4 separate regions of the Homo sapiens genome follow, and all the other regions are linked to region 1. The links come from fine-mapping of genetic effects on gene expression. A gene starts in region 1. Each other region holds a variant in brackets. All regions are shown on one strand. Distances are from middle to middle.

The links. PIP is the estimated chance that this variant, and not a neighbour inherited with it, causes the effect.
Region 2: its variant is the best candidate, but not a certain one, in a credible set for the expression of SFXN4 in whole blood (TOPMed, PIP 0.82).
Region 3: its variant is the best candidate, but not a certain one, in a credible set for the expression of SFXN4 in breast (GTEx, PIP 0.86).
Region 4: its variant is the best candidate, but not a certain one, in a credible set for the expression of SFXN4 in hypothalamus (GTEx, PIP 0.78).

Annotation. Positions count from the first base shown.
Region 1 is chr10:119,164,183-119,166,811 of GRCh38, forward strand. SFXN4 (sideroflexin 4) reads right to left here and starts at 1,532. Exons shown (of 14, transcript NM_213649.2): 1 at 1,355-1,532; 2 at 1-14. The coding sequence starts at 1,465. RefSeq lists silencers at 983-1,169, 1,211-1,680.
Region 2 is chr10:119,093,376-119,096,077 of GRCh38, forward strand. No RefSeq gene overlaps it. Among named protein-coding and RNA genes, the nearest start is that of DENND10, 9.4 kb to the right of the region's middle. The variant C/G (reference allele first, on the strand shown) is at 1,263.
Region 3 is chr10:119,291,888-119,294,589 of GRCh38, forward strand. All of the region lies in intron 1 of GRK5 (G protein-coupled receptor kinase 5), which reads left to right. Among named protein-coding and RNA genes, the nearest start is that of GRK5-AS1, 46 kb to the right of the region's middle. The variant G/GGGGTATACA (reference allele first, on the strand shown) is at 1,558.
Region 4 is chr10:120,050,598-120,053,299 of GRCh38, forward strand. No RefSeq gene overlaps it. Among named protein-coding and RNA genes, the nearest start is that of MIR4682, 93 kb to the left of the region's middle. The variant G/A (reference allele first, on the strand shown) is at 1,234.

The sequences.
Region 1 (2,629 bases):
CGTCGAATAAAGGACTTAGGAGGGAGAAAAGCAACAGAGAGGTTAATGGCAGCAGAAAAATAAAGATATAAATACTAACAGTTGGCTTTTTTTTTTTTTTTCTGAGAACCTGCCAGGGTCTGTGATCTGCCTTTTACTGGCATCATCTCCTGGGATCCTCCCAACCTCTCCAGGTTCTCCAGGTGAGGAAGCTGAGGCTTAGAGGGACTCCTGAATGTACTCAAGGCAACACAGCCAGGAAATGATTCAGAAGTCTGTGCCCTTAACCTCTCAGTATCAAATTGCCCTTGAGGGTTAAAATCCCAGACTTTGGGGGTTCAAATGGTCTTACGTTCATATCTCACATACGACCTCGAAGCAATGGCCTAGAATATCTCAAGAGTCTGTGGCCTCACTCTCTGCTTGCTATAAGGCTTCACTCCAGTGACAAAGGATGGACGCCCCATTAAGGGCTCAATGGTGCAGCTGGGGTCACACTGGGGAAAAAGAGGTTTGCTCCAGCAAACTCTAAACTTTGTAGTGGTTCTGGCTTTAAGCCTTGGCTCTGCTGGAGCAACCTGAGCTCACCGCCCCTTCTCAATTTCCCCACCTAAAAAAAAAACAGGGCTGGACCCCACTTTAGGAGAGGCCTCAAAGAGAACCCCCTAAAGCCCTGCTCTCCAATTCGCCACATGCGGCTGAACCCAGATGTGCTGTGAAGGTAACAGACGCCGGATTTGGAACACTCTGTACCAAAAAAGCGAGTAAAATATCTCAGCAATGTTTTTTACTGATTACATGTTGAAATGTTAATATTTTGCACCTGCTAGGCTAAATGTACTGTATTGTTAAAAATTTCAGCTGTTTTTATCTTGTTTAATGTGGCTACTAGAAAATGTTTAATTACCTGTAAGGCTCACATCATATTTCTATTGGACGGTGCTGCCCTAGACGCTGCAGGGAGATAAGTCCTGCTTATGTCCTGCCCAAGGGTGGCTTCCCAAAGCCTCGGGGGTCTCACCGAAAGTGGCTGAGCTTACCAAGGTGCGAGAGCCTGTTTCTCCCCAATCTGCTGCTCAGCCACAGCTCAGGCAGTAGGGAGCAGCCACCTGCGCGGACTGGGCCCCTCCGAGAGGGCAATCTGGAGGGTGACGTTGTGGTCGTGGGCATCTGGCAGCTTCGATTTCCCCTGCGTCCCCTGCCGCGCCCTAAGGGGTGAAGGCCGGTGGTGCGCGTTCCCGGCACAACTCCGAGAGGAGGAAACGGAGACAGGGGGCGCCCACGTGGCCTGGCCAAGGTCACCCGGGTCAGCCCGACTCCACGCGGCCCGGCCCGCCCCCTCCCTGCCCCTAGTCGCGCCGGGCCCGGGCCGTACTTGGCGCTCGGTGATCCAGAAGCGCACGTTGGGCTCAATGAAGGCGGGGACGGCGTCTCTGCGTCCTAGGAGCCGCCCAGGTTGCGTTTCCTCCTCCTGTTCCAGGGACATTTTGCGCTGGTTAGAGTGGCCGCCGCCGCCAGGCCGCGCGTGGAGGAGGAGCCGGGCGGCGAGCCCCGCCCCGGGCCGCGCGCACCCGCAGTTCCCGCCCCAGGCCCGCGCGCCCGACGTCCCGTGTCACAGCGCCTCGGGGCCCTTGCGCGCCCACTGTTCCGGCGAGCGCAGCTCTCCCACGGGCCACGTCCTCCCAACCCTGCTTGCCCTGCTCCGCACCTTTGGGGAGCCGGGCCGTCTCCAGGCCCCAAGGGGTCACTATCGGAACCCGTCATCACAGTACCTAATGCGAAGACCCGGAAAGGTTGTGAGTGAGGCCGTCCGCAACCTCACCCTGCGCTTCTGCCGCGCCCTACCCCTGGTCATTACCCTCGAAAATCCCTCCGATGGCCCACGAATTCCAGTGTGCATGGTGTTGCGCAGTCAGGCCGGCTGCATCATGGTCTCAGCCCAGGGAAAATGTCAAATGCGGTGCCCCTTATTCATGTTACTGAGAATTTCAAGAGAGTAACACCAGAGCATCAAACCAAGTATAGGGCCCTGGGCACAGTGCACTATCCCTCAGCCCAACAGGTTGTTTTTTTTTTTCTTCCAGTGTTGGGGCAAATCCAGTTCCTTTTGTTGACTACCAAATAGGTACCATTTGTAAAGAAAAACCTGCCTTCCCTTCCTCCTCCCACCTGCCCTTCCCCAGCACAGGGCCAGGCGGGGGCTGTGTGCACTTAAATTCACGGAAGCCACAAGTGTGCCTAGGTCGTTCAGGGGGCCTCCGGAGTCCAGGACTGGGGGACCCAGCACATCATCTAGTTGTGTGACCCTCGCCAAGTCAGTATCTCGAAGTCTATTTTCCCATCCGCAAAATGAGGATAACAATTGTACCTATCTCAGGGTTTTGTTTCTGATCAAAGGAGATAAAACATCCCTAACACAGCACTGAGCCCTCAGAAGTGCTCAGTATTGGCCATTAACCTCCAGCGGGCCAATTCCTTCCCTTGCCCTGCGCCTCCAGGAACAGGAAATTGGCTCATGGCGTCCTTCAGGCCTGTATGACTCTGCTTCTGTATTTGCTCAGTTTGCCTAGCTCACTTTTCTTAACCTCCAGGGGTTTATCTCCTCTTCCAGGAAGCCTTCCCTGACCCTCCGAGTTGAGTAAGGTGCCCC
Region 2 (2,702 bases), 71 kb before region 1:
GCACTTTGGGAGGCCAAGGTCGGCAAAGTGCTTGAGTCCAGGAGTTTGAGACCAGCCCAGGCAACTTGATGAAACTTCATCTCTACAAAAAATACAAAAAAATTAGCCAGGTGTTGTAGTGTGTGCGTGTAGTTCCAGCTACTTGGGAGGATGAGGTGGGAGGATCACCCGAACCAGGGAGATTGAGGCTGCAGTGAGCCAAGCCAGGAATGTGCCACTGCACTCTAGCCTGGCTAACAGAGTGAAACCCTGTCCGCAAAAATTAAATTAAATTAAATTTAAAAAAGAATTTCAACAATTAGCCATGCAATGAGTGTTCTGATTTTTTTTAAAAGATTGAGGGGGAGAGTATTTGGGTGGGGCTTACTCAATCACGTAAGCCTTTAAATCCATCCATGTGGAGAGGTCAGAAGCAAAGGAAGGGATTCAAAGCATGAGCAGGCACACAGAAGGAACCCCAAGGCAAGAAACTGCAGGCACCTCCAAGGGCTGAGGTAAGCCCTCCAGCCAACAGCCAGCCAGAGAACAGGGACCTCAGTCCTACCCCTGCAAGGGAATTATTCTGTCAACAATCTCAATGAGCCTGGAAGCAAACGCATCCCCAGAGCCTCCAGAGAGGAATGCGGCCTGGTCAGTGCCTGGATTCACAGCCTGGCAAGACACTAAACAGAGCATCCAGTCACACTGTTCCTGGACAACTAACCTACAGTGAGCCAATGAAAGGGTTTTGTTTGTTTGTTTGTTTGTTTGTTTGTTTGTTTTTTGAGATGGAGTCTTGTTATTGTTGCCCAGGCTGGAGTGCAATGGTGCAATCTCGGCTCACTGCAACCTCTGCCTCCCAGATTCAAGTGATTCTCCTGCCTCAGCCTCCTGAGTAGCTGAGACTGCAGGCGCCCACCACCATGCCTGGCTATTTTGTTTGTATTTTTAGTAGAGATGGGGTTTCACCATGTTGACGAGGCTGGTCTTGAACTGCTGACTTCAGGTGATCCACCCCTCTTGGCCTCCCAAAGTGCTGGGATTACAGGCATGAGCCACTGTGCCCGGCTAAAAGGGTGTTCTTTAAGCTTCTAAGTTTGATTAGTTACACAGCAATAGAAAACTGATACAAACCCAGAGACCTTAACAATTCTCTTGGCATTAACTCTTTTTCTTTTTTGAGACAGTTTTGCTCTGTCGCCCAGGCTGAAGTGCAGTAGCACAATCTTGCCTCACTGCAACCTCCACCTCTGAAGTTCAAGCGTCTCTCAAGCCTCAGCCAC[C/G]CGAGTAGCTGGGATTACAGGCGCACGGCACCATGCCTGGCTAATTTTTTTATTTTTGTATAGTACAGGTGGGGTTTCACCATGTTGGCCAGGCTGGTCTCAAACTCCTGCCTCAAGTGATCCACCAGCCTCAGCCTCCCAAAGTGCTGGGATTCCAGGTGTGAGCCACTGCACCCGGCCAGCATTAAGTCTTGCAGAAGCAAGAATGAAACACTAACAGTTTAAAATTTTTAAAGTTACTTTGCCTTATGTGAAATGAAAACAGAAATACAGCTCAATGGAGGATAAGGAGATTGTTTAAGGTTTAACTGTACAATTCAGACTGCTCAAGCAAAAACCTCCTACAGGGAAACTGGGACTATAAACATGTTATTGTACTCACATTGGTGTTTTTAGGACTAGAAGGTACATTTCTTCTTCTTCTTCTTTTTTTTTTTTTTTTGAGACAGAGTCTCGCACTGTCACCCAGGCTGGAGTGCAGTGGCGCGATCTCGGCTCACTGCAACCTCCACCTCCCAGGTTCAAGCGATTCTCCTGCCTCAGCCTCCCGAGTAGCTGTGACTACAGGCGCGTGCCACCACGCCCAGCTAATTTTTTTTGTATTTTTAGTAGAGACGGGGTTTCACAATGTTGGCCAGGATGGTCTCGATCTCTTGACCTCATGATCCGCCTGCCTGGGCCTCCCAAAGTGCTGGGATTACAGGTGTGAGCCACCTGTGCCCCGCCTTAGAAGGTACATTTCTTTTGCGTTTTTTTTTTTTTTTTTTTTTTAGACAGGGTCTTACTGGGTTTTCTTGGCTGGAATGCAGTGGCCTTGGCCTGATCATAGCTCACCACAACCTGGAACTCCTGGGTTCGAGTGATCTTCCAGCCTCAGTCCCCCAGGTAGCCAGGACCACAGGCACACACCACCACACCCACCTTGCATTTTATTTTCTACAGACATAGGATTATAAATACATTTCACTTCATCCCATAAACATGCCATATTTGGAGTCAGATGTGGCTTTTAACCCCAGCTTTGCCATTTACTAGCTCCGTGACATTGGGCATGAAATCTCTCTGTAAGCCTCTGTTTTCCCATCTGCAAAACAGCCACAATAAGGGTGTGGTGGGGTTTAAATGAGACACTACATGTAGTGCTTTTTTTTCTTTACTCTTTTTTTTTTTTTTTTCTGAGACAGGGTTCTTGTTGCCCAGGCTGGAGTACAGTGGCATGATCTTGGCTCACTGCAGCCTCCTCGACTTCCTGGGCTCAAGCAATCCTCCCACTTCAGCCTCCTGCGTAGCTGAGACCACAGAAATGCGCCACCATGCCTTGCTAATTTTGTTATTTTTTGTTGAGAGGGGGTTTCCCCATGTTTCCCAGGCAAGTCTTGAACTTCTAAGCTCAAGCAGTCCACCTACCTTGGCCTCCCAAAGTGTGTAGAAAGTATGAGA
Region 3 (2,702 bases), 130 kb after region 1:
CTGCTCATCTTCTTCCTCCTCCTCCTCTTCTTCTTCCTCCTTCTTTTCCTCCTCTTTTTCCTCCTTCTCCTCCTCTTCCTCCTTCTCCTCCTCTTCCTCCTTCTTCTCCTCCTCTTCCTCCTTCTCCTCCTCTTCCTCCTTCTTCTCCTCCTCTTCCTCCTTCTCCTCCTCCTCTTCCTCCTTCTCCTCCTCTTCCTCCTCCTTCTCCTCTTCCTCCTTCTCCTCTTCCTCCCTCTCCTCATCTTCCTCCTTCTCCTCCTCTTCCTCCTCCTCTTCCTCCTCCTCCTCTTCCTCCTCCTCCTCTTCCTCCTTCTCCTATTCCTCCTCCTCCTCTTCCTCCTTCTCCTCCTATTCCTCCTTCCCCTCCTCTTCCTCTTCCTCCTCCTTCTCCTCCTCTTCCTCTTTCTCCTCCTCTTCCTCCTTCTCCTCCTATTCCTCCTTCTCCTCCTCATCCTCCTTTCTTCCTCTTCCTTCACAAACACATGGTGCCTCGGCTTCACAGGGATAGCCCCCATGTTCATCTGCTCATTGCTTCTGGGTTGCTGCCTTGGGCAGGTGGCTATTTTGGGGTCTTTCAGATAATTTAAAAAAACCCAATACCCTAAACCTCCCCAAACCTAATTCTCACCCTCAGGGCCTAAGTACATTTGAAATTGCACACAAACTTAAGGTTGCTGTGTGCTAGATGGGATGCGGTGAGGGACAAGGCTCTCCAATCATAGTTTTTCCTAGGTGTCTGTGAGGGATTGGTTCCAGGACCTCCTGAGGATACCAAAATCTGCAGATGCACAAGTCCCTGACAGAAAATGGTGTCATATTTGCATATAACCTATACACAGCCTCTGGTATATTTTAACTCATCTCTAGATATAATGTAAATGCTATGTAAATAGTTGCTATACTGTATTGTTTAGGGAATAATGGCAACAGAAAAAGTCCATACATATTCAGTACAGATACAGTTTTTTTTTTTTTCTGAATGTTTTCAATCCATGGTTGATTAAATCCACAAATGCAGAGCCCGTGGATATGGGAGGCCAACTGCGTGTTGACTTTATGTTTTACAAAGCACCCTCTAATCATTGAATACTGGGAAACTTCAAGCTCTGGGCCAGGCACTGCACTCAGCATTTGGTGGCTTCATCTCCTGTCATATTCTGGAGCCGTATGAACAAGAATTTTCCCATCTTATAAATAAAAGAGCGAAGACCTGAAGAAGTTATGTATAAGCTGTTGTTTAAGGTTATGCAGCCAGGAAGTGGCTTACTCTCTTTGAATCTTACCCCATTCTTGTGAAACAGGTGGAGGACATATTTTTATCTCCCATTTAACAGACAAGAGACTTGAGGTGGCTGGATGCCGTGGCTCACACCTGTGATTCCAGCACTTTGGGAGGCTGAGGTGGGTGGATCACTTGAGGTCAGGAGTTTGAGACCAGTGGGTGCTTTTCTCTGGCGACGCCCAGTCTGTTTCATTAGCTAACAGATGCTAAGCTCTACCATGGGATAGTTGTAAAACCTTGAATGCAAAGCTTGAATACAATTGAGGAGCAGAGAT[G/GGGGTATACA]GGGTATACAGCAAGCACTCTGTGTATTAAGTGATTGTTGTTCCTCGTCTGTCTTTTGACCTCCCAGTGCACAGCCATGGGTCTGTCACTCTGGTGACCTTTGGCCGTGGGCATTGGGAGGATAGTTTATGTTGACTGCGGATTGCCAGGTACCAAGTATCAGGCAAATTGGCTTCTTTGTACATTCCTCCTTCCGGATAGACCTTGGGCCTCCTCGTCACTGCCCAGGAGATTTGCTGGGAATCTAGGAGGGAGTGGATGATGGCCTGGATGCCTGGGTGGTGCTGCCTCTGCCCCGAGGCAGCAGTCAGTGCCAGGGTGGGGCTGGGTGGGTGCTGCCATCGCCTCGGGGTGGTACCCGAGTCTGGAGTAGGAACAATACTCTATTGTTACGTTAAACCTGAAATAGACGCCTTCAGATGGAGGGGGTGAGTATGAATCTATTACGATCTAATAATGACAAGAGCACTCTGTGTCTTTTCAGATGCTTGACAATCACCTGCTAATCCCGGGGGTCTGGGAGCTGAGCATTTTCAACCTCCACCCCCACCTCTGCTTTGTGGAGTTGGGGAAAAACAGAGACCCAGGAGCTGTGAAATGAGGGAGGCTCAGCTTCTCCACTTACTTTCATGGTGTGAGGAGACGCATGTGTATTTGCCTCTGACCCCTCCTGCAGGGAGGAAAGCGTACCTGGATCTGGGTGAGAGGCATGTGTGGTGATGAGAACATTTCACAGACCCAAGTTCAAATCTCTGCTCTGCCACTCGAGCATATTTCAGAACCTGTCCTAGTCTCAATTTCTTGGTAAGGTGAGACTATAACCACTTTTAATGGGTCCACAAGGCCTGATCCAACCCAGCAGGTGCTCTTGCGGGTGAGGACCACATCTCGGTTGGTTAGACGTGTCCCCCCAGCCCTCTGCCAGGACCTAGGAGTTGGGGTGAGGGGCTGGGTTGCAGGGAAATGTTGAATCCCAAAAGCAGATTTCCCAGGCAGGCACTGTCCTGACCCAACCTGCCGCCAGCCACCTGTCAAGCTGGACCTCTGGGCTTTTCTCTCCAAATGCTCTTGTTCTCAGGAAAGGGCCAAGACTCACCCCAGGCACAAGATAAGTAGGAATCAGGTGTGAGCCAGTGGTCAGGAGA
Region 4 (2,702 bases), 890 kb after region 1:
AAGTAACTCAGGAATGGAAAACCAAAATATATATTAAAAAAACAAAAACAAAAAATATACTTTCAAATTCATTTTGTTCATATATTGAGTAAGGTTTTTCATCTATATTATTAATAATGCAAGACTATAAACTTTTTTAACTTAAAAATTATATTTTGAATCAAAGTTATGTCTACTTCTCAAAATATTTTGGAAAAAATTTTCATCTTCTTTCATTTTCTGTTATGATTTGAATAGCATAGGAATTAACTATTCTTTTAAGGACAGATAGAATTTATGGACAAAAGTATTTGGGCCTGGTTCCTACTGTAGTGGTAGATGTTTGACATATTTTCCCCAAGAATTCTATCGTGATTGTTCAGTTCTATCTCTTCCTGAGTCTGTTTTGGCAATTCATTTTACTAACAGCCATCAATTTCATCTTGGTATTCAAATTTATTGGCAATAACCAGTTATTTTCATTAACTATTTTAATTGCTCTCATATTTGTAGTCTCATTTCTAATTTTTCTTACTTTCCTGCTTTCTTTTTTCCCCCATTTTTTGAATTGTTTTGAAGGGGTTAGTCCTTTTCATTCAGCTTTTCAAAGACCCCACTTTTGGCTTTCCTTATAACATGCTTAGATTTCAAACAGAAAAAGGAATTTAACTTTTGGGTTAATTATTTATTTGGTCCACTACATTGAAGATAGTCCCAAAAGTTCACTGGTTATTTTGTCTGCTCCCCGAAAACCCCCTTTACTTCATAAATAGAGTTTAGAAGAGGGCCAGGACAGGGGATTTGGGTCAGGGAAATTAACCTTGACTGCACTGTGAGCCACTGCGAACCACTTTGTGACTTTATTACTATGCAACATTGATTAATGTACACTCTAGAACTAACTGCTGGAAGGAGACACTGCTGGGCAGCTTGAAGGCTTGAGGAAGAGGAAAGGCAGAGGGAAGGAGGGGAGAGAAGGGGAAGGGAGCAGAGAGTTGGGGTTGGGGGAGAAGGAATGCTTTAGCTTTTCAAATGATAGAAACTTTTGTCCTTTGTTTTAACCTCTTCAGCTGCCCAAGCCACTCCCAGAGCTGTGATCCTTCAGTGCCTCTGGTTTCCAATAGTTTCTCAAAAGTCCCCTGTGTAGTTTAGCTCTTCACATCCTCTCCTGGCAGAACACACAATATAAATGTAAACTGTCATCATCATGGCCCGGGACCCCAGGGAAAGAGATGACATTTTCTTGTGAGACTG[G/A]GAGAAGCAGCAGGAGCAGGTGTGGGGAAGGGTTGTTTTGCAAATCAAATGTTGTGGAATGGTTTTTACAGTCTTGGGGGAGACACAGTGTTTACTAAGAGGAAGTGGATAATGGTCCTCAGGTTGTTCCGTCTACAATAGTGAAGAATAAGCAGACGGTGTGCGCCTGTGGTCCCAGCTACTTGGAAGGCTGAGGTGGGAGAGTTGCTTGAGCCCAAAAGTTTGAGGCTACAGCGCGCTATGAGTGGTACCATTGCACTCCAGCCAGGACCACAGAGTGAGATGCTGTCTCAAAAAAAAAAAAAAAAGAAATGCAGACAAGATCAGTGTATTCAGGGTACTGGTGAGTGCCTGTTGAGCCCAGGAATTTGAATCCAGTTTGGGCAACATAACGAGATCCCATCTCTCCAAGAAAGGAAGAAGCAGCAGATGTAGCTGATGATCTAGCTTAGCACTCTCAATGCCTGCTCCTGCCATGCTGATGCTGGGCTTTGCTCAGAAGTGAGGGGCATATAGGTGGCACTCCCTAAAAATAGGTGGCAATCACTTGTTCATTTTCTCAAAGTGGGTCAACATTAGTTCCCATCCAGGGTGATTTTGCCCCCCCGGAGCAAAATCATTTGGCATTTGGCAATGTCTGGAGACATTTTTGGTTGTCACAACTTGGACTACTCCAAGGAGTACCACTGTCATGTAGTGGCATGGAGGCCTGGATGCTGCTGGACGACTTACAATGCACAGGACAGCCCCACAGCAAAGAACTATTTAGCACCCAGTGTCAGTCCTGCTCAGGATGAGGGGCTCTGGGTGAGGGTGATGCCCAGCATGCAACATTCAGCCTGGGGATGTTGGTCGAATGGTCAGGAGCTTTCAGTAGGGCAGCACTGGTCAGTATGATTTCAGGGGATCCATTTTTGTAATTTTTTTGCCTAATTTTTTTAAGTCCATGAATGAGACATGATTACATTCATAGTGCAGAAGATTTAAACAATTCAGGAGTGAGGAGAACAAAGTGTGACTGTTCTGTTTGCTTTCCTTTCTTGCTTTTACCCTTTTCCTCCTCTTCTCTCCACCCTTTCCTTTCTGGGGGCCTGGTCCAGCTGTCTTCAGCTGCTCACACATTTTTTTCTTACATAAATGGCATCATTCCACACCCACTCTTATATAACTTACTCTTTTCACTTAGCATTTGAGTAAATCAACTTCCAGGCTGTTCAAAGTTTCACAATGAATAGATAGTCTCATATTGTGGAAGTAATCAAAGTAGCACTACTTTATGGCACCTGCTCTATGCCAGGCAGGATTCCAGAGTCTCTGCATGTGACTTCTTTAGTCCTCATAAAACCTTGTGGGTTAGGTGCTATTTTATGGATCAGGAAACGGAAGCACTCAGAGGCAATCTGGGTGAGTCCTCACTTTTTACCCCTGCACTGTCCAGAAAAGCTATTATCTGTGGAGCAGGGAACCTT